Regions from separate parts of the Homo sapiens genome. Here region 2 is linked to region 1. A link means that fine-mapping ties the variant in region 1 to the expression of a gene that starts in the linked region. Tissue or cell type: sigmoid colon. Region 1 holds a variant in brackets; the other region holds the start of a gene. All regions are shown on one strand. Distances are between the middles of the regions.

The links. PIP is the estimated chance that this variant, and not a neighbour inherited with it, causes the effect.
Region 2: it holds the start of EXO5-DT, and the variant in region 1 is fine-mapped to the expression of EXO5-DT in sigmoid colon (GTEx, PIP 0.95).

Annotation. Positions count from the first base shown.
Region 1 is chr1:40,667,274-40,675,381 of GRCh38, forward strand. LOC105378675 (a long non-coding RNA gene) reads left to right here. Exons shown (of 2, transcript XR_947238.3): 2 at 1-403. It also overlaps a transcript of RIMS3 not described here. Among named protein-coding and RNA genes, the nearest start is that of RIMS3, 5.6 kb to the left of the region's middle. RefSeq lists enhancers at 1,638-1,787, 1,848-1,897. The variant T/TA (reference allele first, on the strand shown) is at 4,198.
Region 2 is chr1:40,503,751-40,511,855 of GRCh38, forward strand. EXO5-DT (EXO5 divergent transcript) reads right to left here and starts at 4,945. Exons shown (of 2, transcript NR_187365.1): 1 at 4,839-4,945. It overlaps EXO5 (exonuclease 5), which reads left to right and starts at 5,017. Exons shown (of 4, transcript NM_001346953.2): 1 at 5,017-5,158; 2 at 5,701-5,875; 3 at 5,983-6,040. RefSeq lists enhancers at 5,054-5,303, 5,334-5,423.

The sequences.
Region 1 (8,108 bases):
ACCTCAGGCCTAGGCCTGGACTAGGGCCTGGGTGGTAGAATGGGTTACTCTGGAGCAGCAAGGGGGACTAGATTAGGGGAGGTGGGATGGAGGCCAGGGCAGGACCTGGAACGAGGGTGGAGGTGAGGGGTGGGAGCACAGAGAGGAATCAGGCTTCCTGTGTGCTCCTCCCTGGCCCCTTTCACAGAGACAGGTAAACCAGGGGTTCCCTTTGCACATCTGATGAAAACTTAGCACTATCTCTCTGGAGATGTGCAATGTATATTTTGCATATAATTTCAGTATCTTCAAAGTTCTATATTGGTTACCAGAAGGACTGGATGGGAGGTGGGTGGAGAGGGGGTTGATTCTTAAGTGTATATAGAAGAATAAACATACAGGAATAAAAAGTCCAGGAAGAAAAGTAATGAAAAGGGATTTGTCTTACCCGATACTAAAACATACTATAAAGTCAATGTATTTAAAGCAGTATGGTATTGAAGCAGGACTAGACCGATCTGTGGAACAAAATGGAGTATGGAAATGGATCCAGCCCCACAAGGGAATTCAATGTATGATAAAGATAGCACTTCAGGCCCGGCACAGTGGCTCATGCCAGTAATCCCAAAACTTTGGGAGGTTGAGGCGGGCAGATCACTTGAGACTAGCCTGGGCAACATGGCAAAACTTTGTCTCTATAAAAAAATACAAAACTTGTGGCCGGGGGCGGTGGCTCACACCTGTAATCCCAGCACTTTGGGAGGCCGAGGCAGGCGGATCACAAGATCAAGAGATTGAGACCATCCTAGCCAACATGGTGAAACCCTGTCTCAACTAAAAATACAAAAATTAGCTGGGTGTGGTGGCATGCACCTGTAGTCCCAACTACTTGGGAGACTGAGGCAGGAGAATCGCTTGAACCCAGGAGGCGGAGGTTGCAGTGAACTGAGATCGCACCACTGCACTCCAGCCTGGTAACAGAGCAAGACTCTGTCTCAAAAAAAAAAAAAAAAAAAAAATTTATCTGGGCATGATTGCACACACCTGTAGTCCCAGCTACCAGGGAGGCTGAAGTGGGAGGATTACCTGAGCCTGGGAGGTCAAGGCTGCAGTGAGCTGTGATCACGCCACTGCACTCCAGCCTGGGCAACAGAGCAAGACCTTGTCTCTAAATGAATGAATGAATAAAAGACAGCACTTCAGACAAATGGGGGGCGGAGTTGGTAGGGGGTTGTGGGCGGGGGGGGGGGGGTTGGTGGCGGAGATCAAATGGGTGGAATAACCAGCAAGTCTTTTGGGGAAATTACAAAAAGCTGTGCCCTTATTCGACACTGAAATAAATTCCAGGTGGACCACATATTTAACACCATAATGTATCAGAAAAAAGACATGAGTGAATATTTTAATAATCTTGGAGATGGAAAAGACTTTCTAAGCATGATGAAACCTAGAAGCCATAAGAGAAAACATGGAAATGTTTGACTACAAGGCTTCTATACAGAAGAAATGGCCATAAGTCAGTTTGAAAGACAAATGACAAAACGGAGGGGATATATCCTGGTTGCCCCCTACCCTGTCCCCTCCTGCCCGCCAGCCCCTCCAAGCCGAGACGGGGACGAGCAGGAGGGATGGCTGGGGCTGTGAGAGTCGAGACCGAGCACCTGGCAGAGGCTTCTCCTGCGGCGCTCTGGCCAGCGCCCACATGTTTAGGGGCCGGGAAGTCCCGGAAACCCCAGGCGGGCCATCTGGGTCCTCAGCAGGTGCCTTGGCACAGCCGAGCCGAAGTCCTCCTGGAGGCTGCTCACCACTTCCCTCGCGTGGCCATCCTAAGAACTGCAATCCTCTGTTCCTGCTCAGCCCCTTCTGAGCATCAAGGCGAGAATTTAAAAATAAATAAATAACAGCTAATTTTTTGAGGGAACTAACCATGTTCCAGGCATTGTGTTAAACACTTAACCTAGCATATTTCATTTTCCCCTCAAAACAGCTCTTCGAGGTAGGTGCACTGTATTCTTATCTCCATTTGATGGACGGAAACTGAGGCTTGAAAAAAGTGACTTGTCTTTCTAAGTGGTGGCACCAGAATTTACTGCCACATTCCTGGCCTCAGCTCTTAATGTAATAAAGCCAAACCTTTGGGAAAATTCAATAAAACAAACTTTTTTGAGGTTTACCTTTATCCAGGCCTTTTGCAGGTGCTGGGGATTCTGAATTGAGGAAAATAGTCATCAGAGGTGACAGCAGAGGAACACTCCTGATACAGCGAATCCTGATGGCTACAGAGGACTCATTCACCCCAGGAAGCGGTGGGGGCAGTGGGGAGGGATCCCAGAGGAGACGTCCTCCAAGCTGCATCTTGTGGAGAGAGAGTAGTGGGGTGGCACTTACTAAGGTGGGCTGGATGACAAGTGGGGCTTGGGGGAGGAGCAGTGATCTATATGCTCTGAGTTTGGGGGTAGACCACAGATGGGGCTGAATAAAGTACACCAGGACCAAGCTAAGGAGTTTGGGTGCAAAGATTTTTTTGAAAGCTTTTCCATGTTTCAGTTGCTTGGGTCTAGGGACAGCCTGCTCTGCCAACCCAACCTGCCTCCTTTGCAGATGCTTTCTCACCCCAGTTCAAGGTGCTCTCAGAAACTTGGGAGTCCCTCCTGATTCCTTCCTCTTCCTCACTTCTATCCACTTAATTATCAGAGCCATCCAGTTTGCTTCCTAAATACTTCCTAGGTTCACCCACTTCTCTCCATCCCTCTTGCCTCTCCTCTAGTCCAGCCTGCCTTCCTGTCACTCCTGAATTCAGCTGCTGTTGGTGACTTGGTCTCACCACCTTCAAACTTTTACACAAGAGAAATCCTTCTAAAACAAATCTGACCACATCCCCTCTCTTACTGAAAATGCTTTTCATTGATTCATTCAACAAATATCAAGTATTTATTATATGTTGAATATTCAAGATATAATTATGAGCAAAACATGGAATTTAAAGCCTATGGGGGTGACAGACATGAACCAAATCACCCCCTAAATAATTGTATAATAAAAACTGGGTTAGATGCTATGGGAGGGACTGGCCTAGACAGGGAGATCTTTGAATGCTCCCCAAGGCATCCCATCTGAAGCTTGAATAGCAGTCAGCCAGATCAACAAGCCAAGGATGGGTAAGAGCTTACACAAAGGCCCTGAAGTTGCTTCTCTGAGTTTCTGTTTCCTTGTCTGTATAATGGGAATATTTAGAGTTATGAGGATTAAATGAGTTAATATGTGTAAAGTTCTTAGAACAGACCTTAGGATATAAATTTTCCATAAGTGTTAGTTATAATTTTATATATATATATATATATATATATATATATATATTTGAGATGGAGTCTCACTCTGTTACCCAGGAGGCAGTGGCGTGATCTCTGCTCACTGCAATCTCCGCCTCCCAGGTTGAAGCAATTCTTCTGCCTCAGCCTCCTGGGTAGCTGGGATTACAGGCATGTGCCACTACGCCTGGCTAATTTTTGTGTTTTTTGTAGAGATGGGGTTTCACCATATTGGCCAGGCTAGTCTTGAATCCTGATCCACCCACCTCAGCCTCCCAAAGTGCTGGGATTACAGGAGTGAGCCACTGCGCCTGGCCAATAACTTAATAATATATATTTTTTTAAGTGGAGAGATATTGGAAATCTTTCAGCAAAGGAGTTAAAGGAGAAAGTAGCATTTTTTAAATGTCACTCCAGCTGCAATGAGGAGCATGGATTAGTACAAAGAAAGAGCAGATTTGGGGAAACTAATGAGACTTTTGCAGGGGTCCATTGAGAGCTATGGGGATTTGGGCTAGGGAGGCAGAGGGAAATTGGAGAGATTTTGTGGTTTAGGTAGTAGACACTGCTGGACTTGCTGTTTTATTGGTAGTGGGAGGCTGTAGGAGGTAGGTGGTCCCTACAACTGGTTGGGTGGTGATGTTCTTCACCAAGACAGGGAAGCCTGAATGATGCCTAGGCCTTGGGGGGGATGCTGATTCTGGATGTGTTTAGATGCACACACTGTGGGACATCCCAGATGAGGGCTGCATAGGCAGCTGATTCACTGTGGAGTTCAGAAGAGAAACTGTGGCTGGAGATACAAAACTAAGATTGTTGGTGATATGGTTTGGATCTGTGTTCCCACCTAAATCTCATGTCAAATTTGTAATCCCCAGTGTTGGAGGTGGGGCCTGGTGGGAGATGATTA[T/TA]ACTAGGGGTGGTTTCTCATGAATGGTTTAGCACCATCCCCTTGGTGCTCTTCTCATTATAGTGAGTGAGTTCTCATGAGATCCAGTTGTTTAAAAGTGTGTGGCACCACCCGACCACTCTGTCTTGCTCCTGCTCCTGCCATGTAAGACGCGCTGGCTCCCCCTTTGCCTTCAGCCATGATTGGAAGCTTCCTGAGGCTTCCCCAGAAGGCAAGCAGATGCTAGTATCATGCTTCCTGTACAGCCTGTGGAACTCTGAGCCAATTAAACCCCTTTCCTTTCTTTTCTTTTTTTTTTTTTTTTTTTGATGGAGTCTCACTCTGTCACCTAGGCTTAGGCTGGAGTGCAGTGGCGTGATCTCAGCTCACTGCAACCTCCACCTCCCAGGTTCAAGGGATTCTCCTACCTCAGTCTCCCAAGTAGCTGTGACTACAGGCATGTACCACCATGCCCAGCTAATTATTTTTGGTAGAGACAGGGTTTTACCATGTTGCCCAGGCTGGTCTCGAACTCCTGATCTCAAGTGATCTGCCCACCTCAGCCTCCCAAAGTGCTGAGATTACAGGCATGAGCCACCGTGCCCAGCCTCCCTTTTCTTTATAAATTACCCAGTCTCAGGTATTTCCTTATAGCAATGCAAGAACAGACTAATACAGTTGGCAAATAAGTGATCACCTCAATCACCCCATCTTTGAGATGGTAGAGGTAGGAGATAGCTAGATGATTTTTTTTTTTTTTTTTTTTTTGAGACGGAGTCTCGCTCTTTCACCCAGGCCGGACTGCAGTGGTGCTATCTCGGCTCACTGCAAGCTCCGCCTCCCGGGTTCACACCATTCTCCTGCCTCAGCCTCCTGAGTAGCTGGGACTACAGGTGCCCGCCACCACGCCCAGCTAATTTTTTGTATTTTTAGTAGAGACGGGGTTTCACCGTGTTAGCCAAGATGGTCTCGATCTCCTGACCTCGTGATCCACCTGCCTCGGCCTCCTAAAGTGCTGGGATTACAGGCGTGAGCCACCGTGCCTGGCCGCTAGATGATTTTTAAGGTTTCTTCTGGTTCAAACACGCATAGGATTCCAAGTGTTAAGGTCAGTAGGACTCCAGAGACAGAGAGAAAATCGATGTGGTCTGAAAGACTTGGCAGAAGCTCCTTGGAGGCTATTTGTTATTCATTCATCAGTCTTTTACTGAGCAGCTACTCTGAGCCACATGCTCTATTGGGGGTGGAAGGGTAAATAAGACCTAGCCGCCAAACCAGTGTGGTGGCTGACATTTGTAATTTCAGCTACTCAGGAGGCTGAGGCAGAAGACTGCTTGAGTCCAGGAGTTCAAGGCTACAGTAAACTGATTGTATCACTGCACTCCAGCCTAGGTGACAGGGTAAGACCCCATCTCTGGAGAAAAAAAAAAAAAAAAGGCCGGGCATGGTGGATTACAGGCTGTGATTATGCCTGTAATCCTGGCACTGTGGAAGGCCAAGGCAGGTGGATTGCTTGAGGTCAGGAGTTCAAGACCAATCTGACCAACATGGTGAAAACCTGTCTCTACTAAAAATACAAAAATTAGCGGAGCGTGGTGGCAGGTGCCTGTAATCCCAGCCACTTGGGAGGCTGAAGCAAGAGAATTGCTTGAAACTGGGAGGCGGAGGTTGCAGTGAGCCAAGAATGCACCACTGCACTCCAGCCTGGAGACACAGCAAGGCTCCATCTCAAAAAAAAAAGCATCTCAGGGTCTCAGGCTTGTTAGACCAAGGAATGTTTCCTAAAGGAAGTAACAACTAAGATTAAGACCCAAAAGTCAGGTAAAAGAAAGCTCCCTCCTCTTGAATTTTTCACTTTAGACTTTACCATGCACTCTCAGAGTCCATTCCAGGAACAAAGGCCCAGGCAATAGCAGTTGCACTTCCTAGGTTCTGCTGAATTTTCCTTCTTCTCTGAGATCCTTCTTCTCAATGTTCCCTCTGGCCTCATCTTCACATTCTCCGCCAGGGCTAGGAATAGGGTCAGGGCAAAGGGACCGAGGGTACAGAAGTAGGGAGGCGCTCACTCATGGGTCGTGCAATGTGCTCCTGGCCCTCTTCCCACTCACACCCCCACTCTAGCTTTTCCCTGTACTCTGCTGGCATCTTGCTATTCCCACATGTGGCTTCCTCTGTTTACAGTGAGCCTTGCCAACACTTGACTGAGGAAAGCTTGCTCATGATGAGCTCAGATGTCACCTCCTCCTGGAAGTCCACTGCTTTCTCCAGTCGTCCCTGTCCTTCTACCTAGGCCAAGATGGTCCCCTGTGCTCTAACAGCATGGTGAAGACTGCACAGTGGTTAACAGAACAGGCTTTAGCATCAGAGCCCTGCTGTGCTGTTTATTATCTGTGGATCACTCTCTGAGCCTGTTTCCTTCCACATGTGTGAAATGTGGTGCTGGCATCACAGGGGAGTTGTAAAGATTAAATGAGAAAACATATGTAAAGTGATCAGCAGTGACTGGTATACGTACCAGTCAGATACATGATATAATAAAGATAAAGACAAGAAAATAATGAGAATAAATGAACACTTTAGAAGATGCATAAACAATAACAGTAGCTACCGCTTACAGTAAGTGGTTATTGTTTATACTTCTTCTAAAGTGCTCATGTTTTCTAATTATTTTCCTGCCTTTATCTTCATTATATCATAAGCTTCTGGGGGCAAGAAGGAAGAAGAGGAGGAGGAAGAAGATATTCATAATTGACATTTAACAAGCATTACGACATGTCTGCTGAATAAAGAAATGACAATTTCATGGGAAATGTTCTGGGCAGGAAATCTGGAATCCTGAGCTCCAATCACATGGTCCTAGTGATGGTACAGTTTCTGCCTCACTCACATTCACTTTAAGGAAAAGCTGCCCAGACCACAAACCCTGCTGGGGCCACGCTTTAAACCACCTGGCCCCTCCAGCCTCTAGACTTGAGCAGATAGGGCCAGCACCGGAGTCAAGGGTCACCATTTAATATATTAGCTGCTGTCCTCTGACCAATGGTGTATACTATGGTGTGAATGTGTTCCCCAAGGTTCATGTGCTGGAAACTTAATCCCCAAGGCAACAGTGTTGAGAGGAGGGACCTTCAGGAGGTGATTAGGTCATGGGGACTCTGCCATCATAAATAAATTAATGACGATATTGAGGGAGTGGGTTCCTGATAAAAGGATGCATTCAACCCCATTTCTTCTTCTCTCTCTCTTTCTCTCTCCCCTTCTCTCTGTCCCTCTCATGCTGTCTTGCTCTCTTGCCCTTCACCTGCTGCCATGGAATACACAGCAAGAAGGCCCTTGCCAGGTGTGCACCCCTAAACCTTAGACTTACCAGGCTTTAGAGCTGTAAGAAATATATTTCTATACCTTATAAATTACCTAGTTTCAGATATTCTGATATAGCAGCACAAAATGAACTAAGACAACCTAGCACAACAATCTAAGATGGGCTGATTCGAGGCTTTATTGAACCAAGGAAGAGAAAGACATTGTTGTCCCAGGCATGGCGCCTCACACACAAAACCCCAGAACTTCGAGAGGTCAAGGTGGGAGGATCAGTTAAGCCCAGGAGCTCAAGACCAGCCTGGACAACAGTGAGACTTTGTCTCTACGAAAGGAAAAAAAATTTTTTTTAATTAGCCAAGCATGGTGGTGCATGCCTGTATTCTCAGCTACTTTGGAGGCTGAGGTGGGAGGATCATTTGAGCCTGGGAGGCAGAGGTGGCAGTGAGCCAAGATCGTGCCATGCCACTGCACTACAGCCTGGGTGATAGAGTGAGACCCTGTCTCAGGAAAAAAAAAAAAGGAAAGAAATTGTCAGGTGGCAGAAGGAGTTGAAGTAGAGAAGTCAGAGACAGCCAGGTATGGTGGCTCATGCCTGTAATTCCAACCGGTTGG
Region 2 (8,105 bases), 160 kb before region 1:
AAGGCTTTCATGGTCCTGGAAGCTACTAGCAGTGGAAGAGGAGGGAGGCTGCCGGATATGGAGCAAACACAGGAGAAACAGATCCAAGAAATGGAAAGAGAAAACCCCTTGACTCAAGGGTTCATAATGTACCATATCCGAAGCTGCCTTCTTTTAGCAGAAGCATGCCCCAGTCGTTCATCCTTAGCTCATTCTCACCCCCCACAACTTCCTGGCCTAGGGCTACCTCCTCCTGCTTTCTCCGACTAAAAATGCCCCTTTCAATTGCCAGAAATTGGAGTTTGACTCAAGAGAGAGGCTGATTCTCATATAAGGAATAGAAGATTCTCAAATACTGAATATTGTCAATGGAGTTCTCTTGAGCATGTAAAGAGTATGCCGATTATTGCCCCTATACCTGTGAGGAACACAATTTGAGCAAGATAAATTCTCTTCCTTTAAGGCTCTGATACTCCAGAGCAGCACTGTACAACAGAAATATAATGTAAGCCACAACACAAATGCAAACATATGTAATTTTAAATTTTCTAGCAGCTACATTAATACAACAAAAAACAGCAAGTAAAATTAATTTTTTTTTAAAGACAGAGTCACTCTGTTGCCCAGGCTGGAGTGCAGTAGTGCAGTCTTGGTTCACTGCAACCTCTGCCTCCTGGGTTCAAGAGATTCTCATGCCTCAGCCTCCTGAGTAGCTGGGACTACAGGCACATGCCACTATGCCTGGCTAATTTCTGTATTTGTAGTAGAGATGGGGTTTTGCCATGTTGGCCAGGCTGGTCTTGAAATCCTGACCTCAGGTGATTCACCCACCTTGGCCTCCCATAGTGCTGGAATTACAGGCATGAGCCACCACACCCAGCTTAATTTTAAGATGTTTTATTTAACTCAGTTTTATTAGTCTGTTCTCATGCTGCTAATAAAGACATACCCAAGACTGGGTAATTTATAAAGGAAAGAGGTTTAATGGCCTCACCATTGCACATGGCTGGAGAGGCCTCACAATCATGGCGGGAGGCGAAGGAAGAGCAGGCATGTCTTACATGGCAGCAGGCAAGAAGCTTGTGTAGGGGAACTCCCCTTTATAAAACCATCAGATATTGTGAGACTTATTCACTATCACGGGAACAGCACAGGAAAAACTCGTCCCCATGATTCAATTGCCTACCACTGGGTCCCTCCCATGACACATGGGGATTATTAAAATTCAAGGTGAGATTTGGGTGGAAAACACAGAGCCAAACCATATCACCAATATATCCAAAACATTATCATCTCAACATTTAATCAATGTAAACATTATTAGTGAGTTATTTAACCTTTTTTTTGTACTCAGCTTCAAAGTGCTTGTAAATGTTATAATTATAGCACATTTCATTTTGGACTAGCCACATTTCAAGTGTTCAAGAGCCACATATGACTAGTGGCTACTGTATTGGACAGTGCAGCTCTGGGAGTAATCACATAAAGACTTACTCCGATATATGGTAGACTGTAGTCAGTACAATGTTAGGGGTACAGTCCTGTGCTCCAAAACACCAAGGAGGGAAGAATGGACACAGAGGAAAATGGGCCATTTGTGTCTAACAGTATTTTGATGGTTACAGACCTGGAGATGGAAGAACCAAATCAGTGACTTTTGCATACAGGTGGGCCTTAAGGACTCAGACTTCCTAGGATAGCCTTTTGGGGAAAAGGGCATTCTTTTCTCAGTTTTGAGACCCACAGTCTTTAGGCTGAAAGTTTTGGGGAATATATGGTACTATGTTTTTGATATTTATTTTCCCCACAAATTCCATGACTGTTTCTAAATCTCTTCTGCTTCACTCTACCCAGTGTCATTGCCCCTCAAACCCCATTTGAGGAGTGGTCCATGTGTGAAGGGGTTGGGGAGGGGTTTTCCTGGCATTCAGTTTACATCTCAAGTAAGAAAGGTTATGTTGGGGAAGAGGCAGAAAGTTTTTGTAGCCTCAATCCAGAAATGCCTTCTCATATCTCAATGGATTAAAAAGCATTTCCTCAATGATATGGTTTGGTTGTCTCCCAACCCAAATCTCATCTTGAAGTGTAGCTCCCATAATTCCCACATATCATGGAAGAGGTACCTGGTAGGAGGTAATTGAATCGTGGGGGCAGGTCTTTCCCATGCTGTTCTCGTGATAGTGAATAAGTCTCACAAGATCTGATGGTTTTGTTTTGTTTCGTTTTTGTTTTTGAGATGGAATTTCACTCTTGTTGCCCAGGCTGGAGTGCAGTGGCGCGATCTCAGCTCACCACAACCTCCGCCTCCCAGGTTCAAGTGATTCTCCTGCCTCAGCCTCCCGAATAGCTGGGATTACAGGCGTCTGCCACCATGCTTGGCTAATTTTTTGTATTTTTAGTAGAGATAGGGTTTCACCATGTTGGCCAGGCTGGTCTTGAACTCCTGACCTTAGGTGATCCACCAGCCATGGCCTCCCAAAGTGCTGGGATTACGGGCATAAGGCACCACACCCAGCTGACCTGATGGTTTTATAAAGGTGTGTTCCCCTGCACATGTTCTCTCTTGCCTGCCACCATGTAAGAGGTGACTTTGCTCCTCCTTCACCTTCCTCCATGATTGTGAGGCCTCCCCCGCCATGTGGAGCCGTGAGTCAATTAAATCTCTTTCCTTTATAAATTACCCAATCTCAGGTATGTCTTTATTAGCAGCATGAGAACAGACTATTTAATACACTTAAATTCCATTTTTTTTTTTTTTTTTTTTTGAGACAAGAGTCTCAGTCAGCCACCCAGGCTGGAGTGCAGTGGCATGATCTCGGCTCACTGCAACCACCATCTCCCGGTTTCAAGCGATTCTCCCATCTCAGCCTCCCGAGTAGCTAGGATTACAGGCACCTGCCATCATGCCCGGCTAATTTTTGTATTTTAGTAGAGACAGGGTTTCACCATGTTGGCCAGGCTGGTCTTGAACTCCTGACTTCAGGTGATCCGCCCGCCTCGGCCTCCCAAAGTGCTAGGATTACAGGCGAGAGCCACCGTACCTGGCCTCAACTTACATATTTCTAAGAAAAAGAACATTTTCCTACATAACCACAAAATCATTATGACACTCAGGAGACCTATAATTGATTGATAATATTATCTAAAACACAAGTCACTTCAAAATTTTCCCAACTGACGCACCAGAGTAGCTGGGACTACAGGCACGTATCACCACCCCCAGCTAATTTTTGTATTTTTTGTAGAGACGTGTTTTCACCATGTTACCCCAGCTGGTTTCTGAACTGAGCTCAAGGGATCCACCCACTTCGGCCTCCCAGAGTTCTAGGATTACAGGTGTGTGAGCCACTGCACTCAGCCTGTAGTTGTCTTAATTTAATGTTTCTCTTTCTTTCTTTTCTTTTCTTTCTTTCTCTTTCTTTCTTTTTCTTTCCTTTTTTCTCTTTCTTTTTTTCCTTTTTTTTTTTGAGACAGAGTCTCACTTTATCACCCAGGCTGGAGTGCAGTGGCCTGTTGTCGGCTCACTGCAAACTCCGCCTCCCAGGTTCAAGTGATTCTCCTGCCTCAGCCTCCCAAGTAGCTGAGATTACAGGCACCTGCCACCACACTTGGCTAATTTTTTGTATTTTTACTAGAAACGGGGTTTCACTATGTTGGCCAGGCTGGTCTCAACTCCTGACCTCAAGTGATCCGCCTACCTGGGCCTCCCAAAGTGTTGGTATTACAGGCATGAGCCACCATGCCTGGCCAATTTAATGTTTTTCTATTTTTGTTTTAAAATATTTACCTATTCTGAAGTCCAAAGATATTTTCCTATATTATATTCTGAAGACTTTATAGTTTAGGATTTCACATTTAGGTCTTAATCCAGCTACAATTGATTTTTGTGATGAAATGAGAGATAGAGGTCCTGTTTTCTGTTTTGTTTTTTTTTTTGAGACGGAGTCTCCCTCTGTTGCCCAGGCTGAAGTGCAGTGGTGTGATCTCCGCTCACTGCAACCTCCGCCTCCCGGTTCAAGCGATTCTCCTGCTTCAGCCTCCTGAATAGCTGGGACTACAGGTGTGTGCCACCACACCCAGCTAATTTTTGTACTTTTTAGTAGAGACAGGGTTTCACCATGTTGGCCAGGATGGTCTCGATCTCTTAACCTCGTGATCCGCCCACCTCAGCCTCCCAAAGTGCTGGGATTACAGGCGTGAGCCACCGTGCCCGGCCTTCATATTGTCATAGAACCTTCACTGAATAGACCATCTTTTCTCCATGGCTGTATGATGCCACCTTTGTCATAAATCCAGTTTTCAAGTATGCGTGATAAACCGTAAAGAAAAGCAAAGAGTCAAGTATCTGCTTTTGGTAAAATAAATAAATAAATAAATATAAATAAGAAAAGCAAAGTGTTATAAAAGTCGGGCTAGTGGTTTTCTCAGGAAGTGTATCTGTGAAGAACCTGACACTATTCTTTTTTCGCTCTAATGACTTGGCTGTTCATAATTATACTTATCTTTGGTTTATATTTCAGAATAAAATTGTGTTATATTTATCAATAAAAGGTTAGTTAAAAGTAAGCAAACAGAAAAAAAAAAAGAAATATTGATGAGGGGAGCGCCAGCATCTCTCAAAAGTGAGTTCGTGGTTTTGCTCTCAATGGAAAAGCCGGCGGGAGGTGCTAAGGTGGGGATGCTGAATCCACGGATGGCCAAGCGGAGACGCGGCACTTCACCGGGGGCAGCGAGGGGCCCAGACCTTGCTCGGATTGTCCCGGTGGTAACTGGGAGACCTCGCCAGTGAGGGAAGTTACAGATCAGCTGCGCCCGGAATTAAACGACCCACAGACAACGGCGCAAACAGAGGGACTGACCTGCTTTAGTGAGCTCCCAAAACCTGCTCTCGCATAAGCACACCCTCCTCCGCTCACAGAGACGGATTTCTGCCCCAGCCGCAGCCTCGCGAGGTAGGCGGCGCCGCGAGGGCCTCTGGGAAGGCGGTCCGTGGGCAGCCGCGGGGCACTCTGGGACTGGGCTCTGGGCGGCTTTTTTGCGAGTGGCGGGCCGACTGTGTAGTCCGCTCCGGCAGCGCGCTCTGCCCGGCTTCCTCAGTCTCCTCGCCGGGAGCGTCCGGGAGCAGCTCCGAGGCCGCGGCGAAACCAGGTGGAGTCCGAGGTTCGGAGGAGTATCAGAGGTTAGGGGAAGGCCGGAGAATGGGCTGGGAGGCTGCGTTTCGGAGCTTAGGGTTCTGTCCCTGCGATCGCCGCGTCTCCCTCCCTTGGTGGGCGCGGCTCCCGGGAAGCGGCTCGTCTCGTCTCCCCTCACAGGCCGGGTTCCCGTTCTGGACCTTCGCCCTCGGAACACAGTGCTGTTGGCCGGGACTCCTTCCCGAGGTGGACGGCTCCCTGTTCTTATTCCTGGCTCTGCCAGAACTGTAGGAAGTGCTCAGTACACTTTAGGGCATGCATGGCACTCCCTGGGAGACAGTGCTTTAGGGCCAGAGGAAAGATCTTCCCTGAAGGCAAACGCCCGCGGAGCCCACAAGTCCGGGCCGCACTGAACAAGTCAGGATGTTGCCATCGGCAATTCTGCAGAAGGCAGTAACCCATCTGAGAGAAAGAGCCGCTGTCATAAGGTCTCTTGCTTGAGCTGCTGGGTTGAGAATGGAGCTGGAAGAGGGAACTGATCTCGGAGCTCCTTGGGGATCTTGGTTATGTCTGACCCTTTTACTTTCAGGGAGCAGGGATTGGATCAAGTCATTGCATCTAGAGTACGGGGGAACGAAGAAATCATGGAGAGAGTTTGCCCCAGGAGAGAGGCGAGCGTTATGTAACCTAGGATCTGGGGTGGGTAACAGTCTGTGCAGTGTCAATGTGAGAGGAGAAAACACCCAACGTGAGGGAATGGTCAGGTAAGAAAGGACCAGAAGTTCCGGTTCTACCATAGCAAGGACCTAAGTTGCTAATTTAGGTTCTTTAATGCAGACCTGGTCTTTCAGAACTTCTTTCTCTTCCCTAGCCTTGTCATTTCAGCATTCTGGCCTTCCCTATGAGGAGGAAGATCAACGAAGTCACAGGTGAATAGGAGTTTCTCTTCTAAAGTTTCATCTCCTTTGTCAGGGGGAATCGATACACTCTCTCATCTCTTCCTTGGGGAAAAAGAAGGAGATCTATCTTCATCGAGTGCTAATATGCGTACTATATGTTATCACTCAATGGTCGGATATCTCAGTAGGGTTAGTAGGTATTTTAAAAATGTGTCAGTAACTTCAGGAAAACTAGAACCTTGTCCAAGCTTACTCAAAAGGCAAGTAGCATACTACTAAATGCTACCGAACTACTCAGGATTAGGTTTAGAATCCATATCTGTAGGACTCCCAGACTCTTGGCATTATGCTGTTTCCCAGCATCCCATTCACTTACTACCTAACAATTTTGCCATACCTGTGTACTACCTGTATTATTCTATGTTTTTACTTACTTTTTTTTTTTATAAAAATCAAACTTGTCCTAAGAAACAATATCTGTGAAATTAGCCATTTGATGGCTGCTCCAATAACAGTATAGTTATTCTAAGGTGTATCTAAAAATGTTGGTCCATGTGCTATGTAAAATCGTCTCGTGTCAGACATACAAACTACAATTTGGGACACAATGCACTGCATTATGCTCTCTTCTGGATTCTTTTCTGCGTAGGAAAGTCCCAGACACATCTGAGCATCAGTCATCCATCCCTAGTGTACTGTTTTATTCTTATAGATGAATACTTTCACAGAGAATGCCCTGCTTTGTATCTTCTCCAAAAGACATTTCACTTCCCTGTTTAGAACTACCTGTTCTCAATGTTGTATGTAAAACAAGTAGGAACTCCATACATTTCAGGAGCTTCCTCTCTCTTTGGGGAGTTAATGTGTACACAGGAAATAGTCTAACTCTATGCTGTTCAGTAGAGCTTTCTGTGATCAGGGAATGTTCTGTATCTGTGCCTTATCTGTATCCACCAGCCAGATGTAGCTACTGAGCACTTAATATATGGCTAGTGCAACTGAGATGTGAATTTTATTTTATTTTAATTAAATTTAAGTAGCCACATATGGCTAGTGGCTACTAATGGCTACCATATTGGACAGCCAGGTCTAGATATTTGAAATAAAATATTTTAAGGTTATTGATTTGGACTTGGAGTTCCCCCTCACCCTCACAAATACCTCATAGCATATGTGTTATAAATGCCCTTTAGGGCTGGGTGCGGTGGCTCACGCCTGTAATCACAGCACTTTGGGAGGCCGAGGCGGGTGCATCACGAGGTCAGGAGATCGAGACCATCCTGGCTAACACGATGAAACCCCGTCTCTACTAAAAAATACAAAAATTAGCTGGGCGCGGTGGCGGGTGCCTGTAGTCCCAGCTACTCGGGAGGCTGAGGCAGGAGAATGGCGTGAACCCGGGAGGCAGAGCTTGCAGTGAGCTGAGATCCCGCCACTGCACTCCAGCCTGGGTGAAAGAGTGAGACTCTGTCTCAAAAAATAAAATAAAAGAAAAGAAAAAATAAATGCCCTTTAACTTTAGTTTCTTGGTGAAGGGTAAATATTCTTTCCAATTTTCAGAGACTTCATAGTTGAAATAAAGTTTCTTGAAATTATTTAAAGCACATTGACAGTTTATAACACTTGTGTAAATGCACAGCTTCTGTATTTTGTTACTATTGAAATATCCTGTAAAGCAATAATGTTGTAGGATACTCTATAAGCAAAAGTCTTACTATTGTATTATTTTTATTCATTGCAGATAACTTTTCTTCTAGCTATCTATGTTTTCTTTCATTAGTGACATTTAGACTATTTAAAAATCAGTTAAACACAACCACAACTGATATTAATGACGTTTTCAGGGCATCACTTCTTACGCTTTGACATAGGAGTTGGTGCATTCACCTTATTTCACTGCTTATTAGAATAGCAAGAAGGGGACATTTGGTTCATAGCTATCTCTATCAGCTAAAATTCTATGTCAAATTATTTATTTTCCTGGCACTCAAAGTCAAACACTAATGGACTGGTTGTATCTTGTTTTGCTTACTCTCTATGCAGGTTAGATATGTGGGGTTAGAAGGAAGGCTTAAAAAGAGTATCTTCATAAGAT